Linked DNA regions of Homo sapiens. The protein of the gene in region 7 purifies or fractionates together with the protein of the main gene of each other region. This does not show direct contact. Each region holds a gene or a part of one and is shown on either strand. Other genes may lie near its edges. The genes, in order: EIF2A, TANGO6, ZNG1A, MELK, DDX11, MADD and SNX21.

Region 1 (3,500 bases), on a different chromosome or scaffold from region 7:
ATTATTTTCTTGGTCTTGGCAATTGGGAAATTTTGCCTCTTTCCTTCTGGTATAATTTTTTGAATGAAAAATTTCAAACATACACAAAAAATAGAGAAAAAGTATGATAATCCACCTATGCACTCATCATCAAGCTTAAGTAACTATTAACTCAGAGCCAATTTTATCTATTCCCCACTTTTATCTTTCATGCCACAACATTCCAACGCAAAAACTAGATGTCATTATCATATTGCTCTATACTTGATTATGCATCTCTAACCAGTGAGTATATTTTTTTAAAAACATAATCACCACCATGCCACTTCATCTCACAAAATTAACTTCTTAATATCATTTAATACCCAATACTTGGATTGGATATCTGGGTTTTTTAACAGCTCCCCAGGTCATTCTATTGTGCAGCCACATTTGAGAACTACTCATGTAAAAGACTGACTAAATTCTGAGTTTGAAGTTTTTTTAACTTTCGTAGAAGATATGTACAGCACAGTTCCTACTGTATAATAACTCACCAGGAGACACATAAATATCTCTCTGTTCTACTCTTAGTGATACTGAGATTGTACTGGATTCAGTCATGTGCCTCCTTGTATCTACCTAACTCTTCCTGCTGCCACGCCTCAACTATTCAATGAAGAGACCTCATCTCCTAACGCCACTGGTTGTCTTTGAATCTGCAGAGTTAAGGGCCATACTTCCACATGGCTTCCACCATGCACTGCGGCAGCACATGGAGGAGCTCTGGCACTCAGATTCAACCCAAACAGGCTAAGAGGCTGTAGTAAACTTCTTACCCTGTCTCCACACAACAGACTGTTCTGAAGTACAAATGTTCCATACAGCCTTTCTGGAGACAAAAATTTTGCACACATGACCAAGCAAGTTGGCTATATTTTGTGGATTTGTGGTCACCTCAGTATATCCCATCATACTTGCTTTAACTCCTTCCCTGTCTCATTTCCCTTTCTCCCCTACTCCTGCAGCCTTGGGACTGCATACCCTAATGAAGTGTAGCACATAACTTTGCCATAGTTTTTTTTTTGTTTTTTGTTTTTTAAATAGATATGGGGTTTTGCCATACTGCCCAGGCTCATCCTGAACTCCTGGGCTCAAGTGATCCACCCACCTTGGCCTCCCAAAGCGCTGGGATTACAGGCATGAGCCACCGCGCCCAGCCAGACTGGGTTTTCTAGAGTAGTGCTTCTCAAACATTAATGTGCATACATGGCCGGGTGTGGTGGCTCACACCTGTAATCCCAGCACTTTGGGAGGCCAAGGAGGGTGAATCACCTGAGGTCAGAAGTTCGAGACCAGCCTGGCCAACATGGTGAAACCACGTCTCTACTAAAAATAAAAAAATTTAGCCAGGTGTGGTAGCAGGTGCCTATAATCCCAGCTACTTGGGAGGCTGAGGCAGGAGAATCGCTTGAACCCAGGAAGCAGAGGTTGCAGTGAGCCGAGATTGTACCATTGCACTCCAGCCTGGGCAACAAGAGTGAAACTCCATCTCAAAAAAAATAAATAAATAAGTAAATAAATAAATAATGTGCATACAGGCCAGGCATGGTGGCTGAGGCCTGTAATCCCAGCACTTTGGGAGGCCAAGGCGGTTGGATCTCTTGAGCCCAGGAGTTGGAGAGCAGCCTGGGCAACATAGTGAGACCCCCATCTCTACAAAACATACAAAAATTAGCCAGGCATGGTGGCATGCGCCTATAGTCCCAGCTACTTGGGATACTGAGGCAGGAGTATTGTTTGAGCCTGGGAGATTGAGGCTACAGTGGGCCATGATTACACCACTCCATTCTAGCCTGGGCAGCAGAGCAAGACTCTGGAAAAAAAAAAGTGCATATAAATCATCTGAAGATCTAGCTAAAATACAGATTCTGATTCAGTAAGTTGGGTAGGGCCTGAGATGCATTTCTGTACTGGCTCAGGAGTGATGCCAATATAGTTGGTCTTGGTTGGGCCCATGCTTCCTGTAGCAAGGTTCTAGAGAACTGGGCCTAATAAAAATTGGTCAGTAGAGTCAGATGACAACAGCCTGATTATAAAGTTCCCCATTAACAGTCATCAAACAGTTCAGCTAAAGGTTTCAGCATCTTTTGATGATCATCTGCCTAGATCAGTGGTTCTTAAAGGGGGGTCCCCAGATTTGCAGCATCAGTATCACTGGGGAATTTGTTAAAAATGCAAATTATTGGGCCCTACCGCTGATCTAATGAATCCGAACATTTGGAAAGAGAGCTGCAATCTGGATTTTAACGAGCTTTTCAGATGATTCTGATGCTTGGTAAAGTTTGAGAACCAGTGGCCTAGATCCATTTCTTGAGGATTACAAAATGGTAATTGTCTGATCCAGCATCCATTCTCCATTTATTAACTGGAATTCGTCTATAAAATTCTTTTTCTCATCAACCACTTGGTTACTCTGAGAAACAGTTTGTATAAGAAAGGCAAGATAAATGCTTGACTCCTTCCCTTTATTTATCAATTTTCAAAGTAATGAGTGAGGACTCCATCAACCACCAATGCTGACCAGTTAGGTTTAAACGGAGGGGGGATTTTTCGGGGGAGCATTTATATACTTGACATGCTTTATCTTTCTATTCATAATTCTTAATGTTCCCATCTTAGGTTGGTGTGAATCTCTTCAAGTTGCTTCCTACGACCCTTTAACAAAATCTCATTAGTCTTTTATAGCTTTGCTTTCTGGCACAAAAGTTGCTACCTCAACTTGTACATTTTCTGTCCCAGACCTAGAGTTGACCACTTCTCCAAGGAAGTGGTTCCTTTTAGTGAAGAATTGTATTTAGAGATCACAATCTGTGAGGATGGGGTATTCACTGCTACTGTGTTATCACTGCTTCCAGGCCTTTTCATTGGCCAGAACTAGGAAATGCAAATGTTTTATGAAAGGAAATCATGAGTTCATACTGATATAGGCAAGTCTATCTTTTCACTCTAATGCTGAAAAATCTTGGTGCCTAACAACATTAATACAATTAATTTACTCTATCCTATAGTAGATTCAAATGACAATATCAACTTTCAGTTAAAAAGAAAACTATTAGGCCAGGCATGGTGGCTCACGTCTGTAATCCCAGCACTTTGGGAGGATGAGACAGGTGGATCACCTGAGGTCAGGAGTTTGAGACTAGCCTGGCCAACACGGTGAAACTCTGTCACTACTACAAATACAAAAAAATTAGCCAGGCATGGTGGCAGGCACCTGTAATCCCACCTACTTGGGAGGCTGAGGCAGGAGAATCGCTTGAACCTGGGGGGCAGAGGTTGCATTAAGCCGAGATTGCACCACTGCACTCTAGCCTGGGCAACAAGGGCAAAACTCAGTCTCAAAAAAAAAGAATTTTGCAGGTCTTCACATGGTTATGCCACCAACCTGATATAAAGCTAGAATCACTTATTTTAGTTTCCCAATTTTTTTTTTTTTTTTTTTTGAGACGGAGTCTCATCTTTTTGCCCAGGCTGGAGTG
Region 2 (3,500 bases), on a different chromosome or scaffold from region 7:
AAAAGGCAAGGCTGCCAGGCATGGTGGCTCACGCCTGTAATCCCACCCAGCACTTTGGGAGGCTGAGATGGGTGGATCACTTCAGGTCAGGAGTTCAAGACCAGCCTGGCCAACATGGTGAAACCCTGTCTCTACTAAAAATACAAAAATTAGCCGGGCGTGGTGGCACGTGCCTGTAATCCCAGCTACTCGGGAGGCTGAGGCACAAGAATCGCTTGAACCCAGGAGGCGGAGGTTGGCAGTGAGCTGAGATAGAGCCACTGCACTCAAGCCTGGGCAACAGAGCGAGACTCTTTCTCAAAAAAGAAAAAAGAAAAAAAGGCAAAACATGGCCTCAGTGTCAATAGTACTTACCATCTAGAGAGGAAAACCTTTTAAAGTACACAATAAATATTTATTTTATTTTTTATTTGTTTATTTTTTATACCACCAGCCTGCCCCACAACAAATATTTACATTACAGTCCTGATAGGGGCTACAAACAGAACTCCGGGAAGGGCAGGAAGACTTACCTAGGTGCGGGGGTTAGGGAAAGAATCCCGGAGGCCAAGGGTATAAGAGTCCTAGGAAGAGGAAGCAAAATATTAATAGCCTCCCAGGCTGAGGGACTAGCATATGCAAAGGCCTTGAGAGGAGCTTTGTTCAGGCAAGAAAAGAAAGAAGGCCGGCACAGCTGGAGCACAGGCGGCCAGAGGGAGGCCCGCTGTGGGGAAGGGTCGGCCTGGGGAGCTTGTTCTATGTAGCCCTTTCCCCTGACTTCCTGCCTTCACTCCCCAGTGTCCATGCTGATCAGGAATATCGAAAGATGGAAAGGCTCTTGCTCTCTTCTTATAGCAAGTCCAAGACACGTGGTGCTAGACACAGTCTACTTGGTGGAATGCTCAGGGGACTCTGGGCCCAGACCATGTGCTTGTTACCCGCTGAATTAACTATTTCCCATCATTTCCATTCGCCATCTCCAGTGAACTTTCCTATTCCTAAAATGTGGCCTCTCTTTTCTCTGATGTCTCATCACTCTCTCTCTGCTCCCTGTGACCTTTACCATGTTCTATTCTGTATTGTCTGTCTTTACGTGACTATCTTCTTATTCATCCCCACTAGACCAGAAGCCTTTTAAAGGCAAGATCTAGATGTTTCCATTGTTAAATGGCCTTACAAAGTCTTTGCGTAGAGTTGACTAAGTTAAATATACGTTTCTGTATTTTATTTTATTTTTATTTTTATTTTTTGAGACAGAGTCTTGCTCTGTCACGCATGCTGGAGTGCAGTGGCGCAATCTTGGCTCACTGCAACCTCCAGCTCCTTGGTTCCAGTGATTCTCCCATCTCAGCCTCCTATCTCAGCCTGGCATTACAGGCATGCACCACCACGCCCAGCTAATTTGTGTATTTTTAGTAGAGACAGGGTTTTGCCATGTTCGCCAGGCTGGTCTCGAACTCCTGAGCTCAGGTGATCTGCCCGTCTCGGCTACTGCACTCCAGCCTGGGAGACTTGGTCTCAAAAATAAAATATAGGCTGGGTGCAGTGGCTCATGCCTGTAATCCCAGCACTTTGGGAGGCCAAGGTGGGCGGATCACCTGAGGTCAGGATTGCAAAACCAGCCTGACCAACATGGCAAAACCCTGTCTCTATTTTTTAAAAAATTCAAAATTAGCTGGGCATGGTGGCGCATGCCTGTAATCCCACCTACTCCGGAGGCTGAGGCAAGAGAATCGCTTGAACCCGGGAGGCGGAGGTTGCAGTGAGCCGAGATCGCACATTGCACTCCAGCCTGGGCAACAAGAGCAAAACTGTCTCAAAAACAAATAAATAAATAAATAAATAAATATAAAAGAAAATAAAGAAACCGCATAGTATAATGGCTAAAATTATAGGCCCTATTTCTTTTAAGCAAAACACAAAATCCAGAAACCACAAAGGAAAACATTTGATAAATTTAACTACATCAAAAATGGAAATTTCTTCACCAGAATAAAAAATTTCACAAAGAAAAAATGCCAACTGGGAGAAAAATATTTGCAACTCATATGACAGATAATGGACTTAAAAAAAAATGGAGTTTTTACGAATCATTAAGGAGAAGCTGAATTATACATACCAGAAAAAAATACAAATTTATGTTTATATATTTGTTGGAAGTATGCAAATTCATAACAGCAAAATGCTATTTTTTTCTACTGGATTAGCAAAAATAAGGAGTTTACAATACATGGCACTGATAAGAATATGGGGAAACAGGAATTTTCACAGTGTTTGAGGAAAATGTAAATTCTTGGAACCTCTCTGGCCATATCTATCAAAATTGTAATGCGCATTACCCTTTGAGCCAGAAATTCCATTTCTAGATATTTGTCCTACAGATATACTTGTACATGTCTGTAATGACCTAAGTATCAGAATGCATATTGCACTGGGCACAGTGGCTTATGCCTCTAATCTTGACTACTCAGGAGGCTGAGGTGGGAGAATCACTTGAGGCCAGGAGTTCAAGACCAGCCTGCGCAATATAGCAGGACCCCATCTTCAAAAAAATGTTTATTGCAGCAATATTTGCAATAGCAAAAGATAAAAAGAATTTAAATTACTTTCATTGGAAAGATGGTTAAATAAATTGCATTACATTCATCCTCTGCAGCTATAAAAAATAAGTTATTTCCATATGTGCCAATTATACAAAGGATCTACAAAACATGTTAAGTGGGGGAAAAAATATGGTACACAACAGAGCGTAGAATATAATTTTGTACTTTAAAAAGGTAAGGGAAGGCTGGGCTTGGTGGCTCATGCCTGTAATCCCTACCTCTGAGGTGGGAGGGTTGCTTGAGCCCAGGATTTCAAGACCAGCCTGGGCAACATAGCAAAAAAATAAAAATGCCAAGCATGGTGGTGTATGCCTGTAGTCCCAGCTAACTTGGGAGGCTGAGATGGAGGATTGCTGGAGCCCAGGAGATTGAGGCTGCAGTGAGCTATGATTGCACTACTGTACTTTAGCCTGGACAACAGAGTGAGACCCTGTCTAAAAAAACTGGGGGAGAGGGGACAAGAAACAGAAATATACACATGTGTGCTTGTAAACACTTAGAAAATGTCTTCATATGAATGATGTCCTCTGAGAAGGGAAACAGCTAGGAGTCTGGAGTAGAACAGAGCCTTACCTTTTAATATGTACTCTTTTGTACTGTATTATCTTTTCAATAAAAATAAAAAATAAGAACACAGGCTCTGGATGTTGGAAACCTGGCTCCATCATTTTTTTAGCTGAGTAACCTCAACCCTCTAACCCTCTGTTTCTGCAAATATAAGATGGGGCTAATAACCTTCCTCTAGGCCGGGCGCGGTGGCTCACGCCTATAATCCCAGCACTTTGGGAGGCCGAGGCGGGCAGATCATGAGGTCAGGAGATCGAGACCATCCTGGCTAACACGGTGAAACCCTGTCTCTACTAAAAATACAAAAAATTAGCCAGGCGTGGTGGTGGGCACCTGTAGTCCCAGCTACTC
Region 3 (3,360 bases), on a different chromosome or scaffold from region 7:
AAACTCACTCAAAAACCCTGATGAAGGGGTCCTCATTATTTAATTCATTCTTTCGTGGATTCTCAGCAATAAGAATATATGTAACACATACAATGTACTCACTACACAGGGCCAGGTACTTTTGCCTGAGTCACCTCATTTTATCTTTTGACTTACTCTTCACAACAATCCTGGGGAGTGAAGATAACTATTTCATTTTATAAATTGGGGAAAATAAGGGTCAAAAAAATAAGCTACCCAGAGCCAGGAATAAAACTCAAAACCAAAGTAAATCTGTTCTCTTAAAAAAAAATACAAAAGAAAGGCTTGGCTTATCTTTAACTGAATAAGCATGTGCCAAGAGGAGAAGAGTTCTTAGCGATGAGAATGATAGGATAATGCCCTCTTTGGCTTTAGTAAGGGGGACATCATCATGTATTGAATATTAACTTTAGGATTTATTTTTCTTCTTTATCTTGATAAATCTCTCACTGTCTACCCTAAAGAAACAGAAGCTTAACATTTCCTCTAACAGGTCACCTAATTAAAACCCAAACCTCCCTTTGCCAATATAACCCCAAATTTCAAACTCAGAGATGAAAATACACAAGGGCTAAGCATAACATTATAAAAACATACACCCCACCTTGGAAAATAGAGGCTCAAAAGCCAAGCTCAAAATGAATTTAAAAAGGTAGAAAATAATATACTAAAGCACATCTTTGCATAACTTCCTAGAACTGCATATCTGGCCTAGCAATTTTACTCACCATTACATAATCATACAGGCTTACAGCAGAAAATACAAAAAGACCAAAACTATTTTATAATCCAAACTCAAGAGAATCGCTAAAGTATTAAAGACCAATTTAGGCAGAAACATATGAGACATTTCTTTCTTTCCATAGGTTACTGGGGAACAGGTGGTGTTGGTTAACTTCTTTAGTGGTGATTTGTGAGATTTTGGTACACCCATCACCTGAGCAGTATACACTGCACCCAATTTTTGTCTTTTATTCCTCATCCCCTTCCCACCCTTTCTCCCTGAGTCCCCAAAGTTCATTGTGTCATTCTTATGCCTTTGCATCCTCATAGCTTAGCTCCCACTTATGAGTGAGAACATAGCGATGTTTGGTTTTCCATTCCTGAGTTCTTTCACTTAGAATAATAGTCTCCAATCTTATCCAGGTCACTGCGAATGCCATTAATTCACTCCTTTTTATGGCTGAGGAGTATTCCATTGTATGCATATATATCACAGTTACTTTATCCACGCATTGATTGATGGGCCTTTGGGTTGGTTCCACGTTTTTGCAATTGCCAATTGTGCTGCTATAAACATGCGTGTGCACGTATCTTTTTCGTATAATGACTTCTTTTCCTCTGGGTGGATACCTAGTAGTGGGATTGCTGGACCAAATGGTAGTTCTACTTTTAGTTCTTTAAGGAATCTCCACAGTTTTCCATAGTGGTTGTACTAGTTTACATTCCCACCAGCAGTGTAGAAGTGTTCCGTGTTCACCACATCCATGCCAACATCTACTATTTTTTTGATTTTTTTATTATGGCCATTCTTGCAGAAGTAAGGTGGTATCGCACTGTGGTTTTGATTTGCATTTCCCTGATCATTAGTGATGTTGAGCATTTTTCCATATGTTTATTGGCCATTTGTATATCTTCTTTTAAGAATTGTCTATTCATGTCCTTAGCCCACTTTTTGATGGGACTGCTTTTCTTGCTGATTTGTTGGAGTTCATTGTAGATTCTGGATATTTGTTCTTTTTCAGATGTATATATTATGAAAGATTTTCTCCTTCTCTGTGGGTTGTCTGTTTACTCTGCTGACTGTTCCTTTTGCTGTGCAAAAGTTCTTTAGTTTAATTAAGTCCCAGCTATTTATCTTTGTTTTTATTGCATTTGCTTTTGGGTTCATGAAATCCTTGCCTAAGCCAATGTCTAGAATGATTTTTCCAATGGTATCTTTTAGAATTTTTATAGTTTCAGGTCTTAGATTTAAGTCTTTAATTTATCTTGGGTTGATTTTTGTATACAGTGAGAGAGGAGGATCCAGTTTCATTCTCCTACATGTGGCTAGCCAATTATCCCAGCACCATTTGTTGAAAAGGGTATCCTTTTTCCACTTTATGTTTTTGTTTGCTTTGTTGAAGATCAGTTGGCTGTAAGTATTTATTTCTGGGTTCTCTATTCTGTTCCATTGGTCCATGTGACTATTTTTATAACCGTACCATGCTGTTTTGGTGACTATGGCCTTATAGTATAAGTTTGAAATCAGGTAATGTGATGCCTTCAGATTTGTTCTTTTTGCTTAGTCTTGCTTTGGCTACGCGCATGTGTATGTTAAACCATCCCTGCATCCCTGGTATGAAACCCCTTGATCATGGTGGATTATCTTTTTGATATGTTGTTGGAATCAGTTAGCTAGAATTTTCTTAAGGATTTTAGCATCTATGTTCAAGGATATTGGTCTGTAGTTTTCTTCTTTGGTTATGTCCTTTCCTGGTTTTGGTATTAGGGTGATACTGGCTTCATAGAATGATTTAGGGAGGATTCCTTCTTTCTCTCTCTTGTGGAATAGTGTCTTTAAGACTGGTACCAAGTCTTCTTTGAATATCTGGTGGAATTCTGTTGTGAATCCGTCTAGTCCTGGACATTTTTTTGTTGGTAATTTTTTAATTACCATTTCAATCTCCCTGCTTGTTACTGGTCTGTTCAGGGTAATTCTTCCTGATTTAAGCTAGGAGGGTTGTATCTTTCCAGGAATTTCTCCATCTATTTTAGGTTTTCTAGTTTATGCATGTAAAGGTGTTCATGGTAGCCTTGAATATCTTTTGTATTTCTGTGGTGTCAGTTGTAATATCTCCCGTTTCATTTCTTATTGAGCTTATTTGGATTTTCTCTCTTTTCTTGGCTGATCTTGCTAACGGTCTATCAATTTTATTTATCTTTTCAAAGAACCAGCTTTTTGTTTCATTTATCTTTTGGATTTTTTTTGTTGTTTTGTTTCAATTTCATTTAATTCCGCTCTGATCTCCTTTCTTCTGCTGGGTTTGTTCTTGTTTCTCTAGTTCCTTGAGGTGTGACCGTGGATTGTCTGTGCTCTTTCCGACTTTTTGATGGAGGCGCTCAGGGCCGTGAACCTTCCTCTTAGCACCGCCTCTGCTGTGTCCCAGAGGCTGACAGGTTGGGTCACTCTTGTCGTTCAGTTTGAGGAATTGTTACATTTCCATCTTGATTTCATCTTTGACCCACTGATCATTCAGGAGCAGGTTATTCCATGTATCGGCATGGTTTTGAAGGTTCCTTTTGGAGTTGATTTCCAGTTTTATTCCACTGTGGTCTGACAGAGTGCTTGATATAATT
Region 4 (3,500 bases), on a different chromosome or scaffold from region 7:
TGCTGAGAAGTTTACGTTACATATGGCTGTTTATTAGGCATATTTTATCCTTTTGTTCTGAAATTTTTCTGGTTGGAGATAGTTAAGTATTTCAAGCACTGACACTGAGATTTAAAAAAACCATAGTACCATTGCACTGAAAAATGTTAAATAAAATTAAGGAAACTAGTTCAACCACATATATACACATTATTGAGAAGCTAAGCAGTTACCAAATACTAACGGATAATGTTCTAAAAATGGTCAGTTATGTAAATATTTTGGAACCTGAATGCATTTTTCAATAGAAACTACTGTGGTGTTAGTTGGCTTTCTAGGTAGTTCTCCAGCACTTCCAGACTGTGGGAGAAAAACCATAAGATTAGGAATGAGAAGACCTGGGTTCTGGCTCCAGCTTTGTACTATATAGCTTTGATAAATCATTTTATTCCTGATCTCCTCAGTTTCTTCATCAATAAATTAATAATAATTCCATAATATCATCTAATACCCTGTCCACATTCTAATTCTCCAATTGTCTTGAAAATAGACAATGCCTTTAAGAAATTGCTATAAAAGAATAGCAACTTGAAGAGTTACCTATGCTGCAGAACTTTTCATACAGAGGATTTTCTTTGAAACAACAGTATCTTTACGATTTGGGAGGACTACAATCTGTTAGAGGATATCTGTATTTTACTGGCAGAAGAGAAGGGTAAGATGGGCCTCAGAGAGGTAACTAGTTGGCTGGGGTGAGGACCACTGTCTTCCCAGCCTGTTGTACTTAAGGTGCCGTCCTACTGCTGATCAGTTTCATGATTCTACCCCATGAGGAAGGCAGTGGCTACAGGTCCAGGAATGGCCACAGGTCATCCACACATAAACAGATATTCCTACTCTCCAACAGAATCTATGTGATGATTTACCTTAATCAGGTCTATTAATACATGAAAAAGGAAATCTGGTTACATATACTAAAGATTAGAGTCTAAAAAAACCAAACACTTACCGCCTCTCAGGGCTAATGACACCTGTCATTAACTTGTCTGTTCCTGTTGAATTTACTGGTATTTTAATTGGAGTTTCTTTCAGGCACTGGTTTCTAGCTATTAGAAACAGAACAAACACAATCCATATGCAGCACATACTATGGTTCTGAAATTTCTATTATTAATAATAATGCAGGTATCACATTATTCATTGACTCAGAAACAGTATAATCACTTGACCTGTGATGTCGAAGGCTCTAATTCTTTCAAGAAATGTTTCCATGTGATTTATAATAAAAACAAAATCATTTTGCTTTGTATGTGTGGCTCTTCTTTTTTTTCTTCACTGCAAATTTAGGCCATGCTTTTAATTTTATTATAAACATCATATGATAAATCTAAACAGATCATATAAATACAAATCTCATAATTACTGATTCTTTTTCTAAAAATAAAAGTCAATCTGTATTTATACAAGGGCCCAATTTATGCTTTTAATTGATCTAGTATTAAAAGGTGTTAATTGAATTCATAGCCCGATTCAACTCATGTTAGGCAAAAAGAACAGACCCCTGTGAAAGCTTGACATAAGTTATTAAAGAGATGTAAGCTTTGGCCAGGCACAGTGGCTCATGCCTGTAATCCCAGCACCTTGGGAGGCCGAGGAGGGCGGATCATGAGGTCAGGAGTTCGAGACCAGCCTGGCCAACATGGTCAAATGCCATCTCTACTAAAGATACAAAAAAATTAGCTGGGCGTGGTGGCGCACGCCTGTAATCCCAGCCACTTGGGAGGCTGAGGCAGAAGAATCCCTTGAACCCAGTAGGCAGATGTTGCAGTGAGCCGAGATCGCGCCATTGCACTCCAGCCTGGGAGACAGAGCAAGACTTCATCTCGGAAAAAAAAAGAGATGTAAGCTTTGATTATTTTTTATATTCCCTGTTCCAGAATTTTGTGTTTTATTCTAAGTAGGGTATTTGCATTCCAGATAGTTTATGACAAATTTGTACTAACGAATCTGGTTATACTGATTAGCTCATGATCTAAAAGTTTTATACCCTTTAGAGATAATATTCACACTATAAAAACAAAGATATAATATCAAAATTTTAAAAGAGATTAGGGGCTTGGTTTTGTTTATGACTATTTGGCTACATTCTCACTTTCCACAAGAACAAGAAAATAAGAGCAATCAGAAATATTTATAAAAACAGTTTTCATCTTTGTATACAGACAGTATCTATCACCATACAGAACTGCCCTTCAACAAACTGCCAATGCCTGCATTGTGTAGGAGTGACGAAAATGAAATTTATGTTTATGTCAAAAATAACTCACAATGAAAGTAAAATGCAGGTCTGGGCATGGTGGGCTCACCCCCGTAATCCCAGCACTTTGGGAGGCCGAGGCAGGTGGATCACCTGAGGTCAAGAGTTTCGAGAGCAGCCTGCCCAACATGTTGAAACCCCATCTCTACTAAAAATACAAAAAATTAACCGGGCATGGTGGTGCGCACCTGTAATCCCAGCTACTCAGGAGGCTGAGGCAGGAGAATCTCTTGAACCTGGGAGGCGAAGGTTGCAGTGAGGCAAGATCATGCCACTGCACTCCAGCCTGGGCAACAAGAGTGAAACTCTGTCTCAAAAAAAAGAAGAAAAGAGAAGAGAAGAGGAGAGAAGAGAAAAAAGAAAAGAAAGAAAAATGCAAAGTGCCAGTGGAAGCTAACAATCATGGCTTCAGCCACTTGCTTCCTTAAGTGGCTCGTGTTTAAAAAGAAACAACCAATAATAGCTTTGACCAACACAATCTTTCTCGTCATGACAACATATGTCAACTGATAATATTTCAAGATTATAAAATAAATTCCAAACTACCCATATTGCAAAACCTTCAGAGTTACACAAAAAGTAAAAAATGTCAATAATGGAAGGGATTATGGCATTAAAATTTTTTTTAAATAAAAAAGCCCTGGGCCGGGCACAATGGCCCACGCCTATAATCCCAGAAATTTGGGAGGCTGAAGAGGGCAGATCACCTGAGGTCAGGAGTTTGAGACCAGCCTGACCAATATGGTGAAGCCCTGTCTTCACTAAAAATACGAAAATTAGCTGAGCGTGGTAGCAGGCGCCTGTAATCCCAGCTACTAGGGAGGCTGAGGCAGGAGAATCGCTTGAACCCAGGAGGCAGAGGTTGCAGTGAGCCGAGATCGCACCACTGCACTCCAGCCTGGGCAACAGAGCAAGACTCCAACTCAAAGAAATTAAAAAAAAAAGAAAAAAAGGGGAAAAAAAAGATCGTTGAATGAGCTAAGGTGAGCTGAGGTCCGTTTTATCTCCCTGCCCAATCTCATGAGTCACAAAGGGTACTGTATTTACAGTAAGAGAAACAACAGAACAGAAAGAGACCCTTTCATTGGGAAAGAATGCAATAGCAGCTACCATTGCAGGGTAGAGGCTATCTCACTGAATTCTCATAACAACCACAGGCAGCGCCACCGCACCCCCCCACACACACACCATCACACACACACAC
Region 5 (3,500 bases), on a different chromosome or scaffold from region 7:
TAAGTTCATGTTTTTCACCCCTTCTCCAGGAGGCCGGGACACAGCAGCCAGACCAAGGTATGCAGGGCACCGGAGCACAGAGGAGCTGCCCAGGCCACTGGTGAGCCTGAGGCAAAGCAGAGCTGGTGGCTCAGAGCAGCAACACGAGACCAGCTCCCGCCAGGAGCTCCCACAGGCTTTCTGCAGCTTCCACTTCCACAGACGCCTTCCAAGGGGGTGCCCCATCATAAAAGAAGGGGACGTGACAGGGTCATGCAAAGAGGCGTGGGAGCTGGAGTCAGAAGATCCCAGGCTCCCGTGCTGGGAGCAGCCCTTGCTCCGAGCTCTAGTTTATGCGTCTATCAACAAGGATTCAAATACCAGCACTGCGTTCTCACAGGGCACACAAAACCGCATATGCAAGTGCTTCGAACAACCCACAGAACTATGCCTATCACGGAAACACCGTGTGTCTATGTGATGCTGTATCCTTAATATCCCCCCAGAGCAGGGCCTGAAATAAAAAGTCCTCAGAACATGGGCAAAGAACCCATGGGTCTAAATAAAGCTCAAGTCAGACAACTCAACTAAGCTACAAAGAACAAGAATTTTCTAAATCAATGACCAAGACCCTTCTTTTTTTTTTTTTTTTTTTTTTTTGAGACTGATTCTCACTCTGTCGCCCAGACTGGACTGCAGTGGCACAATCTCGGCTCACTGCAACCTCCGCCTCCCGGGTTTGAGCAAGCAATTCTCTTGTCTCAGCCTCTGGAGCAGCTGGGACTACAGGCCACGGCAACACTCCCAGCTAATTTTTTTGTATTTTTAGTAGAGATGGGATTTCACCATGTTGGCCAGGCTGGTCTCAAAACTCCTAACCTCAGGTGAACCACCTGCCTCGGCCTCCCAAGTGCTGGGATTACAGGCGTGAGCCACCGCACCCGGCCGACCCTTCTTAAAAACACAGAGAACTGAGGTGTCCTGATGGGCATCCAAGGAAAAAGCAGCCCAGCGAGTTTTGCAGGCCCGGGGTCAGCAGGGGGACGAGGCTCTCACCCCCTAGCACAGCCACGAATTTCTCCAGCAAATACAGGATCTGCTTCAGGTACATCAGGTTCTTGGCCTTCAAACGCTTCCTGAGAAGAAGCCAACGGACATTAAGTGGTGGTGCCCTGATGGCGACTCGCCCCGCCCACCCCAGTGGAAGCCTTGCTGCCCGGTGCCTCTCAAACTGGGTCACAAGCTACAAATCCTTTCCCAGAGAGCAGGCTGGCCACGGCCCCAGGCCTCAGAGCCAGCGGTCAGTCCCCAGCCTTCCAGGTCTGTGTGCAGCACACACCATGATGTGCCTAGGACATGAATGGCATGCAGCTCCACCCCGCCACAGCCCGGGCCAGAGGTGGGAACCAAAGTGCTGCCTGCCTCTCAGAGGCCCACGCAGGGGGCCACCAAGGGACTGTCCCACTACCTCAGAGGGTCACATCTCACCCGTATCGCTCCACGTACTGCAGCAGCTGGGAATGGGCCTGGCAGAGCTGGGGAAAGAACACAAACCAGGCTCTGAGCAAGCAGCTGAGGGCTAAGGTACTGACATCTTAGATTCACCTAGAAGATGCTGGCCCTGGACACACAGGAAGCCACCAAAGGGAGGAGAGGGGGCTGGCTGCAGACAAAAGGTACGGGTTTCCACAGCCCTTAGGCTGGTGGGAGCTAAGAGAAAAGGGAAGGAAGGGAAGTTTTCCTCCAGTGTCCACTGTGGGTCAGAGAAAAAGCAAGAGGCTGAATTCCTCAAGTATGGAATCTCCCTGCTAAGTTTCCACCGGGTTGGGAAAAGACCTGGAGTCTACAAAGAGTGATGGTTCAAGGCCACCATCACATCCCAGCCTCAATTCAGCCCAGGCACAGGTCAGTAGAGCTGGTGGGATGTCGTGGGGGTTTTCACAGTCAGAAACCAGTGGGCACACCCCAGCTCCACACTCATGAGCTGCATGACCTCAGGACAGAGCTTGACCATCTTTGAATCTCCAAGTTTCCAATGTAAAACAGGAACACCACACCCATGGCAGAGTCAGCGTGAAGACCAGAGACACCTGGTGCCATGCATGGCGCATGATAGGGCAGCAGGAGGAGCCTGCGCTGATCTTGAGCATTCCTCAATTCAGTCCCCTCCAGACAACTTCAGTAATGACAAAATCCAATCCTGAGGGGACTTCTGCCTCACACATGCCATCTCCCTGGCTTACAGAACTGGCTGCTGGCATCCAGGGCTGGAGGGACTCAGGAGCATGGGGGCAGATGAGGTGCAGGGAAATGAGGCACTCTGTCATAGCGGGGTCCCCCGATGCACTGGAAAGCCATGGTCAGCCTCCGATGAGGTCACCGCCTTGACTCGTGCACCCTCTATCAAGCCCCACCTCCGGAGGAACTCTTGGCCCAGGTGTCTGGAGGAACCATCCAAGTCCCTTTACGTCACAGCAGGCCCTGGCCCGGGGAGGGGAGGCCCACACACCTGGGAGCCGCTGACCTCCACGCTGTGCATGCCCGTGATGGTGTCGATCAGGTTGTGCGCCTCGTCGATGATCACCACCTGGTCCTGCAGCCGGATGCCCGCGGCCTGCCGAGTGGCCGCATGCAGCAGCATCTGATAGGGCAGCACCACCAGCTGGGAGGGGAGATGAGGCCACCTGAGCAGGGCGGGGCTCCCCTGCAGGAGCCTTGCCTGCCTGACACTGAGCTCCTGATGTGAGTGCTTCTATTTCCTGCCTGGACTGTGTAGAGACATTCGAAAAACAGCTTGTGGCAACGGACAAGCTCTCCTCGAGTTTCACATGAAAAGCCAATACATGAAACACAGGAAACTAGGGCTGGTCTGACTCCTGAGTAAACCAAGGGCAGGGCTGGGTGAAGGGAACCCCTGCTTAGCCTTGTCCATGTCCTCAAGGTCGCCCCGGAGGCCCCCGAGTTTCCACAAACACCTGCAGACCATCGGTGCACCAGGAAGCGGCCCCAGCTTCTACTCCTGGAGCTGCTACTCCCCAGCTGTGTGACTCTGGAAGAGTTGTCTAACCTCTCTGACTCTTGCTTTCCTCATCTGCAAAATAGGGTTGATACATCCTATTTCAAAGTGAGGGTTAAGGCGTGGAGCTGGGGTAACAAAAATAAAAGCAACTCTGCACATCTTTAGGTGTTTGTTGTTAGGAAAGTTTCCAGTTAAAGGAATACTCATATAAAAAATAAAATATCGGAAAACTGAATGGCTCCATCACCCACGCTTGGTGAGAAAATATGAGTCACTTAACTTTTCTGGGCTCCAGTGTCCCCATGCACAGAATTTCACTGGAATACTATTAACATAAAAGCAAAATATGGTCAAAGTACTTTAAAAATTCAAAAATTGTAAAGATTTTGGGCCATATTATGGTATTTGTGTATAAATGCCTATAGCACTAATCTTGCTCTAAAGGCAAACAGACGGGAGGGAAGGCCTGGGACACCATGGGGCCTGGCAGCTTTCCTCAGTT
Region 6 (3,500 bases), on a different chromosome or scaffold from region 7:
GGGCGGGGTTCTGAGATCTTCCTCACTGCTATGAACTGCAGCCACGTACGAGAAGAGACATAATACGGAGTAGCAGATTTCGTGGGCCTAGAGGAGAGAAAACCAGGCGGATCACGATACTGAGACTCCTCCATCTCCATATGTGAAGGATCTGCCAATGGGCAACTCCTGCCCTAACACTGGGCATGGGCCTCTGGGCTAAACGTGAGCTCCAAGCAAGGAAGCTGTCCCCATGGGAGAGGGGATCCGTGTGTGTGTGTCTGTCTCTCAGGGCTCAAGACCTGTTTCAGCCTGAGTTGAACCTTTGGCAACAAAACGAGGTCCCCACTCACCCCTGTGCGCTCAGAGGGCCCTCCCCTCCTCCTGTCCGAAGGTCCCCCAGGGAGCCCTGCGCACCGTGGCCCATCAGGGTTGAGCGGCACACTCACCATTGGTGTCTTGTACTTGTGGCTCACCACTTCTTTAATTTCAGGAACTAAAACCGGACGGGCAAGAGACAAAACAGAAAGTTCAACACTAAGAGCAATCGTGCCATGCTCCCCCAGGCGGCAGCGCCCGGCGTCAGGGTCCCCTTCCCCTCTGTGGCCTCTCACAGTGGCTGCAGCAGCTTAGGCTATGACAGGGCAGAGGCCACCAGAGGCTCTGTCCAGACTCTGCCAGCTGGGAGGACATGGCCCTAGCCTCCTCAGCTAGGCCTCTGTCATCCGCAGTGGCGTTTACTTGATGGCCGTGATTCTACCCACTTCTTTGAAAGCCCTGGATGGGAGGGACGGGCCTTTCACCAGCCTGGTCACAGCTACTGTCCAGGGCCCCTGAGGAGCTGCAGTGGGGAATTCCCAGGTTTTGGCTGGGAGGAGAGAGCTCTCTCTAGCTTGTGTCCAACTTTGCTGAGACACCCGTGAACTCGTCACCAGCCTGAAAATTGGGTCATGTTAAACACAGTTCCCGTTATTCCCAGCCCCCTACACAGAGGGTCTTGAGGCTGGATGAAGAGGTAACATGATATAAACCCACAGGATGTGGCAGTGTCCTTCCCTGAGTGGCAGGAGAAGCCCAGACCTGCCTGTGTGAGGGAGAGCGTCTGAGGGCTCTGGAGCAACACACCCAGCAGAAGACAGGCGAGTACAGCACCCAGGGAGGGAGGTGACAGGGAGCATCAGGCAAAATACACACATGTCCACAGCCCAGAAGGCAAGAGTGAGAGTCCCCCCGCTCCAGCCATGCAGGGGTTCTGCTTGGCCAGAGGAAGGAGTAGGCCCCCCAGGCTCAGCCACCATCATGGCCCCTTGAGACTGGGAGCAGAGGGGCCTGGCATCTCCCTGGGGGCCAGAAAAGGCAGGAGGAGAATTGGCCGTACCTTCTTCTGACCCTGGGAGGTAGAATTTGGGGGAACCCAGGGTCAGCAGGGAATAAACTCATCAAAGGTAGAGCAAGAAGCCCCAGGCCATTCTCCCGAGTTGGAAGATTCCCCCAAGTATCTCTCTGACAGAAGAGAGAAGGGAACACACGGGGAGGAAAGTCCAGTGAGCCGGTGAGAAGGGGGAGGCAAGGTAGGAAGAAAGAGGGTAGGGGAGAAAGGAAGAGACGAGCTGGCAGTGTGAGGAGCTGGTTCGATGGGAGCTACCCACCCAGGGCAGGGCCCAAGGCAGAGACCTGGGGAGAGGCAGCACGAGCCGAGGTCACTTTACCTGCTGGAGAACGAAGGTTTTCATAGCAGCGATGAGGGGCACAAAAGAATGAAGCACAAACACAGCAGGAACTCAAAGCCCCAGGGTGAGAACCCACTACACCACTCCCTAGCGCTGGCTCCCAGCTTCCGGCTACAGCTGTCCCGCTAGACTCCTCTGTCCCTCAAGTGAGTCTGCCTGCGACGCCCGGTGCCCCTTTGTCTGGCACAGAGGCCAGGTGGAGACCAGAGCGGCGCCAGGGAGGCTGGCTAGCGCACTGGGCTGCTAGAGAGATTGCAGCAGGTGACATGGACATAGTGGAGCTTGGGGGTCGCCAGTCTGCTGTGTCCCAAACTTTCTGACCACTGGCTGGCCCAGCACGGGGAGGTGGTGCTACTTCACTGAGCTGCTTCAGGACCACCTCTAAACTCGAAACCCACCTGAGGCCCCATTTGCTCTTCTGCGATCCATTATCTATCTTTCCCTTCCACATCCCGGCTCTCATCTCAGGGGTCCCTTTTCTTCCTTGTCACTCCTGCTCCTCCTGACTTCTCTACAGAGGTTCTTCTTCTCCCTGCCCCTAGACCCTCCTCTGGAGCTCCGAGGTTTGAGTTACTGCCATGTGAGTCCAGACCTAAGAGCAAAATAGTGTAATTACCAAATTCCTCCAGGACAAAGACGCCTCGAACTGTATTGCACTTTTTAATGTGATTCAGCTCTATGAAAACCTGCAAGAGAGGGAGGGAGGCCGGGGTAAGGCCCACAGGCTCCACCCCTGCCCCACACAGCACACTCTCCCAGCTACAGCCCCACCCACACAAAGAAAGTCTATTTCCCAAAGAGAGGACAGAAGAATCCACACGCACACAACTCAAAAGCGCTAAGAAGCGAAGATAGCAGAAAGGGCATGTACCTTCCGCTCCTGGCCGGAGGAGAAAGCATGGGAGAGAAATGAAGGCGTTAGTTTGAATGGTCAAACCCAACCCGAAGGCCCTGCTGCTGGCCTGGGCTGCCCGCCCGTACCCTCTGCCCAGGGCAGTGCTTGTAAGACACAGTGCCCCAGGGGTCCCCACTCAGCCCATTAGGTCTCTACCCTTCCATGCATCCTCCTCCGGCGCAGAGGGCTGGCACGGGCGCAAAGCTCCCCTCAGACTGTCCTCAGGGTGGGAGGTGTTGGTATCCTCCTTGAAACAGGATCCAGGATCTCCCAAGAGGTATGTGGTGATAATAATATCAGCTACCACTTGCTGAGCACCTACTTGGGGTTTTACAAATACGATTTCTAATCTCTGCACCTACTACGTGACACAGTAAATAGTATTACCCCCATTTTCTACATGAGGAAACTATGGATCAGAAAGTTTCTTTGCCCATGAACGTGGAAGCTGGGCTTCAAATCCAAGCATGTCCTCACACCGAAGCCTGTGCTTTTCCCATTTACCCCAGACTGCACAGCTCCACCAGGAGGTCTGCTGCCTCCTCCACTCCAACTGAACACTGTGTGGCAGAATAGGGGGCAGGTCGCTATCTCATTACTAACTGTGAGGTGAGATTGAGAACCCGGGCTTTCCTCCCCTTCTCTGCAGTCTATCTTCTAGGGGCCAAGCCTTCAACCACAGACTGGCTTGGATGGCTGCCCAGTGGGGCTATGCCAAGGGCAGGACGAGGAACAGGGCAGAGCACCTGGGCGTTGCTCAGCAAGATCTCATCTTCAGAGGCCACGGCGCTAAAATGTGGTCAGAAGTCTGCTCCCCAAGAAGTACTGACACCTTTGTGGTCCAGAAAAGCACTTAGGTAGACCCCTCTCTGGGATGGTCCTAAGGTCTTTGGGGT
Region 7 (3,947 bases):
AGCCCAGTTGGAGGTTGTAGTGAGTTATGACTGCACCACTGCACTCCAGCCTGAGTGACAGAACGAGACCCTGTCTCAAAATTTTTTTTTTTTTTTTTTTTTTTTTTTGAGACGGAGTCTCGCTCTGTTGCCCAGGCCGGACTGCAGTGGCTCGATCTCGGCTCACTGCAAACTCTGCCTCCTGGGTTCACGCCATTCTCCTGCCTCAGCCTCCCAAGTAACTGGGACTACAGGCGCCTGCCACCATGCCCGGCTATTTTTTTGTATTTTTAGTAGAGACGGGGTTTCACCGTGTTATCCAGGATGGTCTCGTGACCTCGTGATCCGCCCGCCTCGGCTTCCCAAAGTGCTGGGATTACAGGCGTGAGCCACCACGCCCGGCCTCAAAAATTTTTTTAAAAGACTCAATAATCGGAGTCGGTCCCTGCTGAAATTGGAGTAGTCACCCCATGGGTGTGGCCCTTGCTTACTAACAGCAACAGAAAAGGGTGGAGAGGCCCAGATGTGGGACTGGGCTCCAGGCCCCCTCCTGCTGAGTCAGAGGTGGAGAAGGGTGGTGAAGAGGAGGGGAGTGAGAGATGGAGAGCTGCCACTGACAGGAGTGGCCAGCTCAGCTGGCTTTCAGGCCTGGCCTGAAAAGGGACTGGAGCAGGAGTCGCTGTGGGCATTAAAGGAGCAGACCTCATTCTCCAAGTCAGTCTCTCAACAGCAAGGAAAACAGCAAGGGACTCCAAGGTCCTCCCCAACATTGCTCTTCATCCTAACCTCCACCAACCCTCTAAGTCTAGCCCTTAGGGACAAGGTCGGGTGCTTGAGAACTGATTGACCTGTGCGTTATAAGGACACAGCAGGCCCTAGATGACAAACATTTTCAACCCAAAGTTAAATAATGATGACATAGCTACCATTTCATTGACCACGTCATAATGCCAGGCACACTGCTAAGGGCTTTTTGTCCATTGTCTCATTTAACTCCTGCTGTAATCTTCTGCATTTTCCCCATTGCTATAATGAGGAAACGGAAGATGACCAAGGTTAAACAACTCACCCAGAGTCAAACAACTGGAAATAAGTGGGAGTCAAGATTGGTCTGGATCGAAAGCCTATTTCCTTAACTACCAGCCCATGCAACTTGGATCTCAAGTTTGACCCAGATAACATCTGTCTCTCTGTATCTCACATCTTGCTACAATTTGCAAAAACCTTGTGGGCTGGGTGGGGAAGTGCACACACCAGTTCTCTTAGTCTCAAAACCAGGTTAAGAGGAAGGTCCTTAATCCCCACTTCAGTCAGTCTCAAGGAAACTAAGTCTTGTGTGAGGATTTGCTCAAGTTACATCCCCTTTCTGACCTCAGTTTCCCCATTTGTAAACAAGGTAACCATTTATAACTACATAGACCCCTCAGGAAGTTGGGGTCTTCCCTACTTGCTCCTAGCCATACTTCTGGACTCACAGCCCAGGGGTTCTAGACCCTCACTCACCACGTACTTGGAGGGCGGGTCCTTGACAACGTTAGCGCTGGTCACTTCGAAGAGCAGCCGCTGGGGTGCCAAGGTGTTCCGGGACTTCTTCCAGAAATCCTGCAGCTGCCGCGCCAGGAGCTGACTGCCCCACTGCCCATCAGGTGGGGGGCTCCGTTCTGCAGACACATGACCAGTCATATCAATGGGCCTAGGGCCAGGGTCGACATCAACCACTGACGTGGCCTCACTCATCCTCCCAGTGTGAGGCAGGACTTACCCCCTTTTTACAGAAATGGAAACTGAGGGACAGAGAGGCACCGAGGAGCCAAACACCGTGCCTGGCAGACAGTAGGGGCTAAATTAATAGCTCCACCCTCAAAATATCGTTAATACATCATTTCCATTCGGATCCCAAGCCCTGTACATTTAATGCCTGCAGCAATTCTGAGATGAGAGTGAGTTCTCCCACTTGACACAAGGGAAAACTTGGCTCAGAGGGGGGTTAAGACTCTCTCAAGGTCACACAGCCAAGAGGTGGCCCAGGCGCTTTAAGAAGTGTGGGAGTTTCAGCTGGATCAACTTAGCGCCCTGGATGCTCTGGGAACGCGGCTGGGATGGAGGCCTAATCGAGCCCCAGGGTTCCCGCCTCCGTCCTCCTGCACTCGCCTGCGTCTTCTCCTGACGTCCCATCCCCGAGGGGCAGCTGGTCAGGGCCAGCCTCCTCGTCGTCCTCGTCCTCGTCGTCCTCGTCGTCCTCGGCGCTGGTGAAGCTGAGGGTGCCGCTGAGTCGGGAGGACAGGCCCTCGGCGTCGTCGTCCTCCAGCTCTGAGCTCTCCGGAAACTGCTCGGCCTCTGGACTGGCCGCCGCCTCCCCGGGGCCGTCGCCGGCCAAGGCGTGCCGCAGCCGGTGCAGGAGCCGGGAGGCCATGGCACCCTGGGGGGAGCGCGCGACGCTGTGTACCGGATCCCGGAGGAGGGGTACCCCAGCCCGGCGCAGGAGGAGGAGGGGCGGGGCCCGAACCGGAGAGGGAGGGGCGCGGTGAGGCCCCACCCCCTGGCAGTCCGAGGTCTTGCGAACCAGGGGACCCAGCCAGCATCGCTTTCCCCCCAACCCACTCAGCCTAGGACCGCGTTCCTCCCCGGAGGGGCTCAGGACCCTCCCGATGTCTCTTGCGCCGCCTCGTGCGCCTCTACCTCCTGCGTCCCACGGTGCATTCAGGGGCGCGCCGCGCCCCAGGGGTCCGGGTGCAGCCCCCCGCAGCCCATGGAGGTCGGCCGGGTTCTGCAGGGCTCCGCCGGGCTCAGGCCGCTCAGAGCGCCGCTCGGGCAGCTTCCTGCCGCCGCCCCGCCTCCTGCCCCGCCCGCTCGCCCGAGCCGCCCGAGAATCCCGGGCCCTTGGCTCCAGGAGGGACTTGGGAAGCCTGGGTCGGCCTGAGGGAGTCCCAGGCCTGCCGCAGAGTCATCCCAGTCCGGCCAGGCGCGTACCCTCCTTGAATCCTCCCACCCCACCCACGTCATCTCCAATCTGTCCCACTCATTTCCACCCAACGCTCTTTAACTTCACAAAGTAATTATGCAATAGTAGGGAGGCCATGTCTCCCGAGAGAAAACGAAGGGCCAGGAGAAGATGCGTGATTTGGGTTGGTTGGAATCTGACCTCGCTGAGCCTAGGTTTTCTCATATGTAAAACAGGAACAATACTGCTAAAACTAATTTTGCAGCTCTTGTAAGAACGCTCGTCCCGTGCCTGGCATAGAGCAAAGGCTGACGAAATGATCACTTACATAATGATTATTGTTTCTACAGTGTTCACAGGCTTGCACAATCTGATTTGAACCTCACACATGGGAAGTAGGCAAACAGGGAAACTGAGGACCAGAGAGGGTGAGTTACTTGGCTTAACCACACAGCTTGCCAGAGGTTTCTTTCTTTCTTTCTCTCTCTCTCTTTCTTTCTTTCTCTCTCTCTCTTTCTTTCTTTCTTTCTCTTTTGAGATGGAGTCTCACTCTGTCACCTAGGCTGGAGTGCAGTGGCACCATCTCTGCTTACTGCAACCTCCGCCTCCCTGGGCTCAGGTCATCCCTCCCACCTCAGCCTCCCCAGTAGCTAGGAATAGAGGCGTTCGCCACCACACCCAGCTAATTTTTGTATTTTTTGTAGAGATGGGATTTGGCCATGTTGCCCAGGCTGGTCTCGAATTCCTGGGCTCAAGTGATCCACCTGCCTCTGCCTCCCTCAGAGGTTTCTGAGTATGGGGCCTGGAGCCCAGGTCCCCTGCTGCATACTGCCCTTTTCCTGTGCAGCAGGCCTGATAATCTCAGTGGCTCCCCAGCTTTGTTTTATCTTTTATCCGCAGGGCAGCTGCAGGTCAAGAAAAAGTTATTGTGGCTTCCTGTCACAAAGCCTAGGTATCAGTTGTTAGGGCAGATTTTGATAGTTATACAATACAATAAATAAAATCAAAATCTCTCCAAAGTAGCTCC

What was found.
Region 1: the proteins of SNX21 (region 7) and EIF2A purify together in Homo sapiens (affinity purification with mass spectrometry; 2 studies listed by BioGRID and IntAct, with this or other methods). This does not show direct contact.
Region 2: the proteins of SNX21 (region 7) and TANGO6 purify together in Homo sapiens (affinity purification with mass spectrometry; one large-scale study listed by BioGRID and IntAct). This does not show direct contact.
Region 3: the proteins of SNX21 (region 7) and ZNG1A purify together in Homo sapiens (affinity purification with mass spectrometry; 2 studies listed by BioGRID and IntAct, with this or other methods). This does not show direct contact.
Region 4: the proteins of SNX21 (region 7) and MELK purify together in Homo sapiens (affinity purification with mass spectrometry; 2 studies listed by BioGRID and IntAct, with this or other methods). This does not show direct contact.
Region 5: the proteins of SNX21 (region 7) and DDX11 purify together in Homo sapiens (affinity purification with mass spectrometry; 2 studies listed by BioGRID and IntAct, with this or other methods). This does not show direct contact.
Region 6: the proteins of SNX21 (region 7) and MADD purify together in Homo sapiens (co-immunoprecipitation; 3 studies listed by BioGRID and IntAct, with this or other methods). This does not show direct contact.

The regions. Positions count from the first base shown.
Region 1 is NC_000003.12:150,553,287-150,556,786, reverse strand, and holds part of EIF2A (eukaryotic translation initiation factor 2A), read right to left. Parts: intron 1-3,500. UniProt on the Homo sapiens protein: Functions in the early steps of protein synthesis of a small number of specific mRNAs. Acts by directing the binding of methionyl-tRNAi to 40S ribosomal subunits.
Region 2 is NC_000016.10:69,077,531-69,081,030, forward strand, and holds part of TANGO6 (transport and Golgi organization protein 6 homolog), read left to right. Parts: intron 1-3,500.
Region 3 is NC_000009.12:123,697-127,056, forward strand, and holds part of ZNG1A (zinc-regulated GTPase metalloprotein activator 1A), read right to left. Parts: intron 1-3,360. UniProt on the Homo sapiens protein: Zinc chaperone that directly transfers zinc cofactor to target metalloproteins, thereby activating them.
Region 4 is NC_000009.12:36,666,895-36,670,394, reverse strand, and holds part of MELK (maternal embryonic leucine zipper kinase), read right to left. Parts: intron 1,086-3,500; coding exon 989-1,085; intron 1-988. UniProt on the Homo sapiens protein: Serine/threonine-protein kinase involved in various processes such as cell cycle regulation, self-renewal of stem cells, apoptosis and splicing regulation. Has a broad substrate specificity; phosphorylates BCL2L14, CDC25B, MAP3K5/ASK1 and ZNF622.
Region 5 is NC_000012.12:31,090,860-31,094,359, reverse strand, and holds part of DDX11 (ATP-dependent DNA helicase DDX11), read right to left. Parts: intron 2,642-3,500; coding exon 2,489-2,641; intron 1,515-2,488; coding exon 1,468-1,514; intron 1,116-1,467; coding exon 1,036-1,115; intron 1-1,035. UniProt on the Homo sapiens protein: DNA-dependent ATPase and ATP-dependent DNA helicase that participates in various functions in genomic stability, including DNA replication, DNA repair and heterochromatin organization as well as in ribosomal RNA synthesis.
Region 6 is NC_000011.10:47,325,633-47,329,132, reverse strand, and holds part of MADD (MAP kinase-activating death domain protein), read right to left. Parts: intron 2,590-3,500; coding exon 2,581-2,589; intron 2,396-2,580; coding exon 2,326-2,395; intron 476-2,325; coding exon 429-475; intron 88-428; coding exon 1-87. UniProt on the Homo sapiens protein: Guanyl-nucleotide exchange factor that regulates small GTPases of the Rab family. Converts GDP-bound inactive form of RAB27A and RAB27B to the GTP-bound active forms.
Region 7 is NC_000020.11:45,832,652-45,836,598, reverse strand, and holds the start of SNX21 (sorting nexin-21), read right to left. Parts: upstream 2,801-3,947; 5' UTR 2,680-2,800; coding exon 2,659-2,679; intron 2,399-2,658; coding exon 2,131-2,398; intron 1,641-2,130; coding exon 1,483-1,640; intron 1,422-1,482; exon of another isoform or gene 1,006-1,421; coding exon of another isoform or gene 922-1,005; exon of another isoform or gene 909-921; coding exon of another isoform or gene 906-908; exon of another isoform or gene 1-905. UniProt on the Homo sapiens protein: Binds to membranes enriched in phosphatidylinositol 3-phosphate (PtdIns(P3)) and phosphatidylinositol 4,5-bisphosphate. May be involved in several stages of intracellular trafficking.